Homo sapiens: one gene and its partner. The protein of the gene in region 2 purifies or fractionates together with the protein of the main gene of each other region. This does not show direct contact. Each region holds a gene or a part of one and is shown on either strand. Other genes may lie near its edges.

Region 1 (3,500 bases), on a different chromosome or scaffold from region 2:
CGGCAGACAGCGGGGAGGGAGCCCTCTTGTCCCCTGTGGCTGCCCTTCCTGCTGGCTGCTTTGCACCGAAAAGCTGCGGAGTAACCCTGGGCGGTGGTGCTCCCTGGATGGCGTCCACATGGGGACCCCAAGGCCTGGGAGGCTCCAGGAGGGACGGTGCTGGCCCAGGTTTCTGTCCCTGTCTGACCTCGGAGTTGGTGTTCTGGGTACCGCACCGTCCGGTGGCCCAGGCTCCGTTTTCTCTTCTGTCAAACTGTGTGGTCACCCTGATGTTTCAGGGGCCCTGCAGGGACGGAGTGGGGTGGGGGGCTGAAGGGTGTGGTCAAACTGGAGGGCGCTGTGTCTGTTGCTATTGTTAACCGTGTCCACACTGATGGGTGCTGGGCCCCGCCACCGAGCGGGACTTGTGCGGCCTGCAGAGATGTGGCTGTTCTGTTGCCTGTCTTAATCCCCAGGGACTGTGGGGCCAGGTCCACACTGTGGGATGAGTGCAGCCCCCACGGCTGTGGTGGGGCTGGGTCCACGCTGTGGGATGAATGCAGCCCCCAGGGACTGTGGGGCCGGGTCCACGCTGTGGGATGAATGAAGCAGCCTTTTCTCCAGCCACACTGGTTTGCTCGGCCTTAGTCCCACTGGATGCGGCGAGGGTTGACCGGTCAGGCCCTTGCTGGTGGCCTGGGTAGATGTCTGGAGAGGGGGCCTGGGCTCCGGACTCCTGCCCTTCCCCCATCAGTGATCCTATCCCACACTCTTTGGCGATGGTCAGTGAGCTGGGCAGGGGCGGGGGTCTGTCCCTGTCCCTCAGGTGGAGATGTCCAGGCCAGTGCCCACAACTGGGTTAGATGGGCTGCACAAGGCTGGGGACCAGTCTCCCAGGCTGTCGGGGGGCTTCAGTAATGGCTGTGGGAAGACCCAGCACGTGAGGAGACGGGAGCTTAGAAATTTTGTATGGCCAGGTGCGGTGGCTCATGCCTGTAATCCAAGTACTTTGAGAGGCCGAGTCAGGCAGATCACTCAAGTCCAGGAGTTCGAGACCAGCCTGGGCAACATGACGAGACCCCTGTCTCTACTAAAAATGCAAAAAATTAGCCAGACTTGGTGATGTGCACCTGTAGTCCCAGCTACCTGGGTGGCTAAGGTGGGAGGATCACTTGAGTCCAGGAGGCAGAGGTTGCAGTGAGCCGAGATTGCACCACTGCACTCCAGCCTGGGCGACCGAGGGAGAGGTTCTGTCTCAAAAACAAACAAACAAACAAAACAAAACAAACAAAAAAAAAACGTAGAAAACATGAGTGAGTGACACCATCCGCTTCCAGTGGAGGGGTGGGGTCACTCCCACTTGGGAGCCAGTCTGCACGGAAGCCTCAGTGGGAACAGAACAAGGTGGCATGGCCCCTGACCGGCGAGGGGCAGTTAGTATCTGCACCTTTGAGGCACCTGGGGACTCTGCTGCTGTGGAGATGGGATTGGGTTCCAGTCCAGAGGCTGTCCTGCCATCGCTGCCCCTGGCTGTCATGCCCCACCTGGGGTAGTGAGTTTCGGGGCAGCTCTTTCTTGAGCCTCAGCAGCGGGGTGAGCCGGGTGCACTTCCTCTCTCAGGGCGCCCCCTTGTCTTCTTGCCTCCCTGCCTGAGGGTGCGTGCTGGAGCAGAAGAGCACGTCCTGGGCTGCCTGCCGGGGATAAGCTGCGGAGCCAGGAGACCGAAGTCTCTTCAGGCCCTGCCATTAGGGGTCGTGTGACTTCAGGGAGGCAGCTTGTCCTCTCCGTGCCTCAGTTTCCCCTCCAGTCAATCAGGCGCTGAGGTGCTGTCTACCTCCTGGGGTTCTGAGACTGAAGCGAAGCAGGCATGAGGCCCCTTGTGAAGCTGGATGAGGGGCGTCCGTCCTCCGCTGCAGGAGGGCTGCCCCTCCTCGGGCCCCTGCGTCAGGTTGGTGCCTGGCTCTGACCCCACACCCACCAGTACAGCTCTTGGTCAGGGTTAGATTTCCTGGCTGTTTCCAAGAGCCAAGATCACAGGCACACGCATGCACACGCGTGGGCTGCCACCACCCGCCTTCTCATGGGTGCTGACAAACGGTCATGTGTATCCCCCAGGTGGGGCCCTGTGGCTCTGGCCTTGCTCCCGGTGTGTGCACTGGCCTGGCCTCCCCGCAGCCTGGTGGGGGCTTCCTGGCTTCTCGGCCCACATCTCACAGTCTTGGGCACTGTGGGGCTCGGCTCAGGCGTCGTAGACGGGAAGCAGCCTGGAACCCTGGAAGTCTGACTCCCAGGTGTCGGCTCCCAGGTCTCAGCCCTGCCACTGGGGTCATGGGTTACTTGAATCTTTATATACTTTTTATTTGTTATTTATTTATTTATTTATTTATTTTTGAGAGAGAGTCTCACTCTGTTGCCCAGGCTGGAGTGCAGTGGTGCAGTCTTGGCTCACTGCAACCTCTGCCTCCTGGTTCAAGTGATTCTCCTGCCTCAGCCTCCCGAGAAGCTGGGATTACAGGCGCATGCCACCACACCCGGCTAATTTTTGTATTTTTAGTGGAGATGTGGTTTCACTATGTTGGCCAGGCTGGTCTCCAACTTCTGACCTCAGGTGATCCGCTTGCCTTGGCCTCCCAAAGTGCTGGGATTACAGGCGTGAGCCACTGCGCCCGGCCTTGAATCTTTTTTTTTTTTTTTTTTTTTTTTTTTTTTTGAGACAAGGTCTCACTTGTCACCCAGGCTGGAGTGCAGTGGTAGAATGTTTGCTCACCTCTGTCTCTTGGGTTCAAGCGTTTCTCCTGCCTCAGCCTCCTGAGTAGCTGGGATTACAAGCGCCCACTGCCACACCCAGCTAATTTTTTTTTTTGTAAATTTTTTTTTTTTGAGACAAGAGTCTTGCTCTGTCGCCTAGGCTGGAGTGCAGTGGCACGATCTCAGCTCACCACAAGCTCCGCCTCCTGATTCACGCCATTCTCCTGCCTCAGCTTTCAGGCGCCTGCCACCATGCCCGGCTAATTTTTTGTAGTTTTAGTGGAGACGCGGTTTCACCGTGTTAGCCAGGATGGTCTCGATCTCCTGACCTCGTGATCCGCCCACCTTGGCCTCCCAAAGTGCCGGGATTACAGGTGTGAGCCACCATGCCTGGCCATTTTTGTAAATTTTTTGGTAGAGACGGGGTTTCACCATGTTGGCTAGGCTGGTCTTGAACTCCTGACCTCAAATGATCCACCTGCCTCGGCCTCAAAGTGCTGGGATTACAGGCGTGAGCCACCGCGCCCGGCTTTGAATCTTGAGCATCGGATGAGCCCCCAGCTCCTGCTGTCAGGGCTGCGCCCTCTTGTGGCGCTTGGAGCCTCCTTTTCTTCCGTTTTCCTTTCCCACCGGGGAAAAGGAAGCTGGGGCACGGACTTCGTTCCTCCTGGTTGGCCTCTCCAGATCTTGGCCAGCGGGTCCAGTCGGGAGGGTGGTTTTCTCCTCTGGAAGCTGGCTCAGTGGGAGCAGTGGGCGGACTCTGGCCCCTCCTA
Region 2 (5,372 bases):
TGACTTCTAACTTTATAGTTTGGTTTTGCTTGTTTTTAATCTAATAAGCTATTTTTACTTTGAATGAAAACTTTAAAAAAAACCTCTTCAGCCTAAAACATTTTTATTATTGCTGAACTGATCCTCTTGAACAACAGCAACAAAAGTGACTTACAGTCAGTTTAGATGGCCATTGATTGGGTTCTTGTCTGTCCCAAGTCTGGGAAGTATAGCAGGTATAGTAAATGCCCTGAAGGAGCAAACAGTTCAACAAAACCCTAGTAATTTACAGAGGAAATGTAATGCCTTCAGGCTGTTATTGGCATGGCAAAGCTGACTAGTACAGTACTGTTGCTGGAATATAATTTTCTCTCATAGGTTTTCTCTCTTATCTTGCTTAACACTAATATTTCCCCACCTATGGTGAATGAGGATAATTTGCAGTGGCTATTAGTTTCATTTGAAAGTTTAGCCTATCAGTAAATAGCTTCAAGTTATATTTATCTGCAATGGTATATAAATGGAATGGGAACATTTTACTTTTTTATGTGGGATTTGGTAAACTGTAAATGTTTCCTTATCAGAATTGTTTCATGTTATCATGAACAAGAATCGCCAGCAGAAAATGGAAGGGGATTGCTGGTGAATTGTTGACTAACGCTATGGGTCTCCACTTAAATAACAAACCCCTGGTAACTGAAATCATTGGTCTTCTTGTTACTGGAGCTAATAATTAGGTTCATGCAACCTTTCAGATCATATCATAAATTCCAAATGCTCAGGCATATTTCACAGTCTTTTCCATCTAATCTTTTCCCTTTCTGTTCTATGTCTGATCCCCCTAAGCAGAGCCTTGTGCCCCTATGTGTAAGTAGGCAAAGGAAATATAGACATATTTCTGAGGTCATTTACATATATGACCATAAAAAAGCCATTGATTTTTGTAACTAACTAACTGAAATAGGATATAAAGGAACTAACTAATTGGAATAGATTATAAAGGATGCTTATGTTCTTTAAGAGTCTCTCTGGTTTTCCTCTGATCTCTTTAAGAGCTAATGTTCGATTTTATTATCATTACCATGTGTTAATTCTCAAAATTTTTATTTCAATTTGTATTCCAAAAATGGTTTGCATGTACCTATTAATTGAGGTTGACTAAATCTATGCATTTATCAAGAAACTAAATTATTATAAATTGAGTAACAAACTATTATATAAAATTGGAAAAAAGTTATTTTTATTTATACTAAAATTATTTTATTTATATTAAAACAGAAATAAAAGCATCCTACATCTGTCTTTTATTTCAAGGGTTTTTTTTTTTTTTTTTTTTTTTGAGACAGAGTCTTGCTCTGTCACCCAGGCTAGAGTGCAGTGGCACCATCTCGGCTCACTGCCAACCTCTGCAGCCGGGTTCAAGCTATTCTCGTGCCTCAGCCTCCGGAGTATCTGGGATTACAGGCACATGCCACCATGCCCAGCTAATTTATTTTTATTTTTATTTTTAGTAGAGACGGGGGTTTTGCCATGTTGGCCAGGCTGGTCTGGAACTCCTGACCTCGGGTAATCTGCCCACCTCGGCCTCCCAAAGTGCTAGGATTACAGGTGTGAGCCACCGCACCCGGCCTTCAAGGGCTTTTTTTGTTTACAATATTTGGTTAATGTTCTGTTTCTTTTTACTGAATTGACGTTTAATGTACAAGATCACAGAAAGTGGATTAGTTAGTAAAGAAAACATTTACCTGAAGTAGTCACATGGATATCAATATATAGCATTGATATCTAGAAGATTAAGATATTATTTTGCCATTAAAAAAAACATTTTTTTTGGAAGTTGTCTATGAAATAGTTAAGAGTAAGGGAAATTTAATTTAATTTTAATCCATTTTATAGAAGAAGCCATACAAGCTCATGAAGCTGGAAAACCATAGAGCGAATCAGCAATTGATCTGGTCAAAAAATGTTAAAGATGCCAATCATGATCCTCCCCAGGTGTGCTGTGTTGGATATGGTTGAATCTCACATAGCATCGATTCCTACATCCTCTTAGTAGGACTTCTTATAATACAAAATCTGGACTTCTAAAGCTACATTTACCAGACTCCTTTTTGACGAACATTCTTCTTGAAAATTAATATTTCCACCAAATAAATTCATGCATATGAGATATGGAGGGCAGAAACATTAAAGGGGCCAATTTCCTGCATCCTTTGGGTTGTTTCTACAGATACGTGAGAAGCTAAAAGAGGTGGGACTTTCTGTAATAGTTCTTCAGTGTCTCTGAGAGGCAGTGGTGACAGTGGCCACTCCCTGTTGGCAGCTTACACTTCTTTGGCTTCAACAAAGCTGGTGTTTTGTTTGGACCCCGGGAGTTCCTTCTTGATTTCTCACCTTTCTGAATGTGGTAGATACAATAGCTCTCCCCAAGGGTCTGTGCTGCTATGTTCTGAGATCATTCATGGAGAGCCAACCTAAAGCCTGCTCCTCCAACCCTTCCAGTTTTTCTGTCAAGTGCTTACTTTATATTAAGTCCCTTTATCTTCAAAATTCAAGAGAAATTTCTGTTTCTCGCACCAAATCCTGGCTGATATGGCCTTTTGCGGTTCTAGGATTTCACAGCTTTCAGTCCTAAATATAATAATCATCTAAGTATCCTACATAGTTTTCTCCTTCAGTACTACTGTTGAGTAAAATGAAGTTTTGCTGTAATATTTCCTCTGGAATTCAAAATCCAGACTAAGTCCTAATAGCAGGCATTCATGCTTATATAGCAGCCCTGCTTACCCCTGTTCAGTCATTAAGACCACCTCGGGTGGTAGGAAAAAGAGCAAGCGTTTGTCTTTTGCATTTCACGTAGAAGCAAATCGAGGCTAGTGATTGTGATTTGTCGAAGGGCACATAACTAAGTAGATCTGGAATAGGAATTTAAAACTACGTCTTCTGGCCAAATTCAGTGTCCTTTCCAGTCTACCATGATGTCCCCGAACAGGGTCCTTTTAGTAACAACAACAACAACAAAAAACTTTTTATTTTTTTATTTTTTTTTTTAGACGGAGTTTTGCTCTTTTTGCCCAGGCTGGAGTGCAATGGCGCAATCTCGGCTCACCGCAACCTCTGCCTCCCCGGTTCAAGCGATTTTCCTGCCTCAGCCTCCTGAGTAGCTGAGATTACAGGCTTGTGCCACCACGCACAGCTAATTTTGTAGTTTTAGTAGAGATAGGGTTTCTCCATGTTGGTCAGGCTGGTCTCAAACTCCTGATGTCATGATCCACCCGCCTCAGCCTCCCAAAGTGCTGGGATTATAGATGTGAGCCACCGAACGTGGCCAACAAAAAGCTTTTAATAGAGTCTAAATGAATACAAGTTTGAAGAGATTGATAGACTTTTCCAAAGAATCTCTGTTATTTTTAGGATTCATACATATGAAGCTTAGATCCCTGCAAACTCAGTTTTTGAGCTATTGTCTTCAAAATAGCTCTTTTTCATGGTGTATGTACAGTCCGTTTTTGTCTACACTGTGCAAGATGTGTGAGCATTGGAAAACCTCATTGCTGCTTTGAGACAAAAAGGGCAGGCCAGCCGCAGTGGCTCACGCCTGTAATCCCAGCATATTGGGAAGCCAAGGCAGGTGGATCACTTGAGGTCAGGAGTTCAAGACCAGCCTGGCCAATATGATGAAACCCCGTCTCTACTAGAATACAAAAATTAGCTGGGTGTGGTGGTGCACACCTGTAATCCCGACCACTCGAGAGGCTGAGGCAGAAGAATCACTTAAACCCAGGAGGCAGGCAGAGGTTTCAGTGAGCCAAGATCGCGCCACTGCATTCCAGCCTGGGCGACAGAGCGATACTCCGAAAAAAAAAAAAAAAAAAAGGAGGGGGCAATGTATGCTCTATAGTCTTTAAAGATATTCTACATCAGTCAGTCAGCGTGGAAACATGCATGTGGAAAGACAGGTATTCAGGTATGGTGTTAAAGGTCTTTTTTTCATTGTCGAGTAAGTGACATTTCTGCATTCAGCAAGACTCTTTATATCTGTTACTCCACCTTTTCTTCTTCTCGACATACGTGTAAATGTTGTCTTTTGCTGATTCCTATTTAGGCTTGTCCCATGGCCTCTCATAGAAATCATGGACCATGGAAGAACAAGAATATGGTAGACATGAAGGAAATGTAGAGGGTGAGTTGCCTGCTCTCAAGCACGATGCAGAATGCAAGACAGTGTCAACTGAGAGGCCAGATCTATATTACTTGTGCAGGGAGGTAGATAGGCCTTGTTTATATTACAACTAGAGCAGGACTTCTGGAGGGCTATAGCTTTATAATTATCATTATTATTTTTTTCCCTAGGGGAGAGCATAGGCCTGGCACTGGGAGGTGCTGATGCTCAGGGGATATTTGTGGAATGAAGGAACTGTCTGGTGTTTGTCTGGCTCACAGTGGGTTCACACAGGGGAGTGTGCAGCCTTGAGGCAGACCTGGAGGGCAGTCATGCTCCTATGAGACCTTCGTGACCTTTGAGGTGTTGTGTTACATTGGTTGGAACACCTTGCTCCTTGTCCTTCCATTCCATCTGAAATCTCCTAGGGTCCTAAGGGACTCTGTGACCTTCTTAAATGGGATTTCTCCATGTGTGTTTGAGAAGGAAACTATTTATTGGCAATGCAGAGCTCACTGCTGTTACAGTGCTGATTTCATTTAAGGTCCAAATATGTCTTAAGATTGAGTGTATACTACACTGCAATTCAATATTGGTTGAAGGTGATGATGCTTAATGTATTTATTTCTCATATTCTAAATTTTACCATTAGTTCCTATTTTCTGAAAAATATGCTCACCCATACACCCAAATATTGCAATGAAAAGCCCTTAAAGAAATTCAGAAGCGTTGGGAGTGACAGAACAAAAGATGCATGGTTGTGAAAACATCCTATCACGATAATGATTCACAAAGAGAAAAAAGAATACTTGTGCTTTATTGCTAAAGTGAGAAAAGTAACAAGACATAGTTCTAAATCTGATTTATAATGAACTTCCACCTACACTATTCTTTGTGTACAGAGGCAATGGAAGTCCCTGGAACAATGCTTTTAATTTCCTCCTTTCTCCACTCCTCGTTTAATGTACTTGGGCCACCTCCATTATTCCAGCTGCCCTCCTGCCCCTGAGAAATACCTCACCTTCTGCATTTATATTTTGGAGCTCGACCTTCCTGGCATCTCTGAATCCTGACTTCATTATTATCTGACACCACTCCCCTTTCTTTTAACAGTGTCTATATGAGTTTCCCCTCAGTTGAAGCTTTCCTAAGAACATAGCAATATGCCTTTACTAGTAAAAATCCCAACCTCAAAACCAACACAATGTTCCCCAGTCCCTTTTCCTCCTTT

The links. Proteins that work in one complex are often made in the same cells at the same time.
Region 1: the proteins of PLCB1 (region 2) and GNA11 purify together in Homo sapiens (affinity purification with western blotting, with the first as the bait; one study listed by BioGRID). This does not show direct contact.

What each region holds. Positions count from the first base shown.
Region 1 is NC_000019.10:3,100,862-3,104,361, forward strand, and holds part of GNA11 (guanine nucleotide-binding protein subunit alpha-11), read left to right. Parts: intron 1-3,500. UniProt on the Homo sapiens protein: Guanine nucleotide-binding proteins (G proteins) function as transducers downstream of G protein-coupled receptors (GPCRs) in numerous signaling cascades.
Region 2 is NC_000020.11:8,137,787-8,143,158, forward strand, and holds part of PLCB1 (1-phosphatidylinositol 4,5-bisphosphate phosphodiesterase beta-1), read left to right. Parts: intron 1-5,372.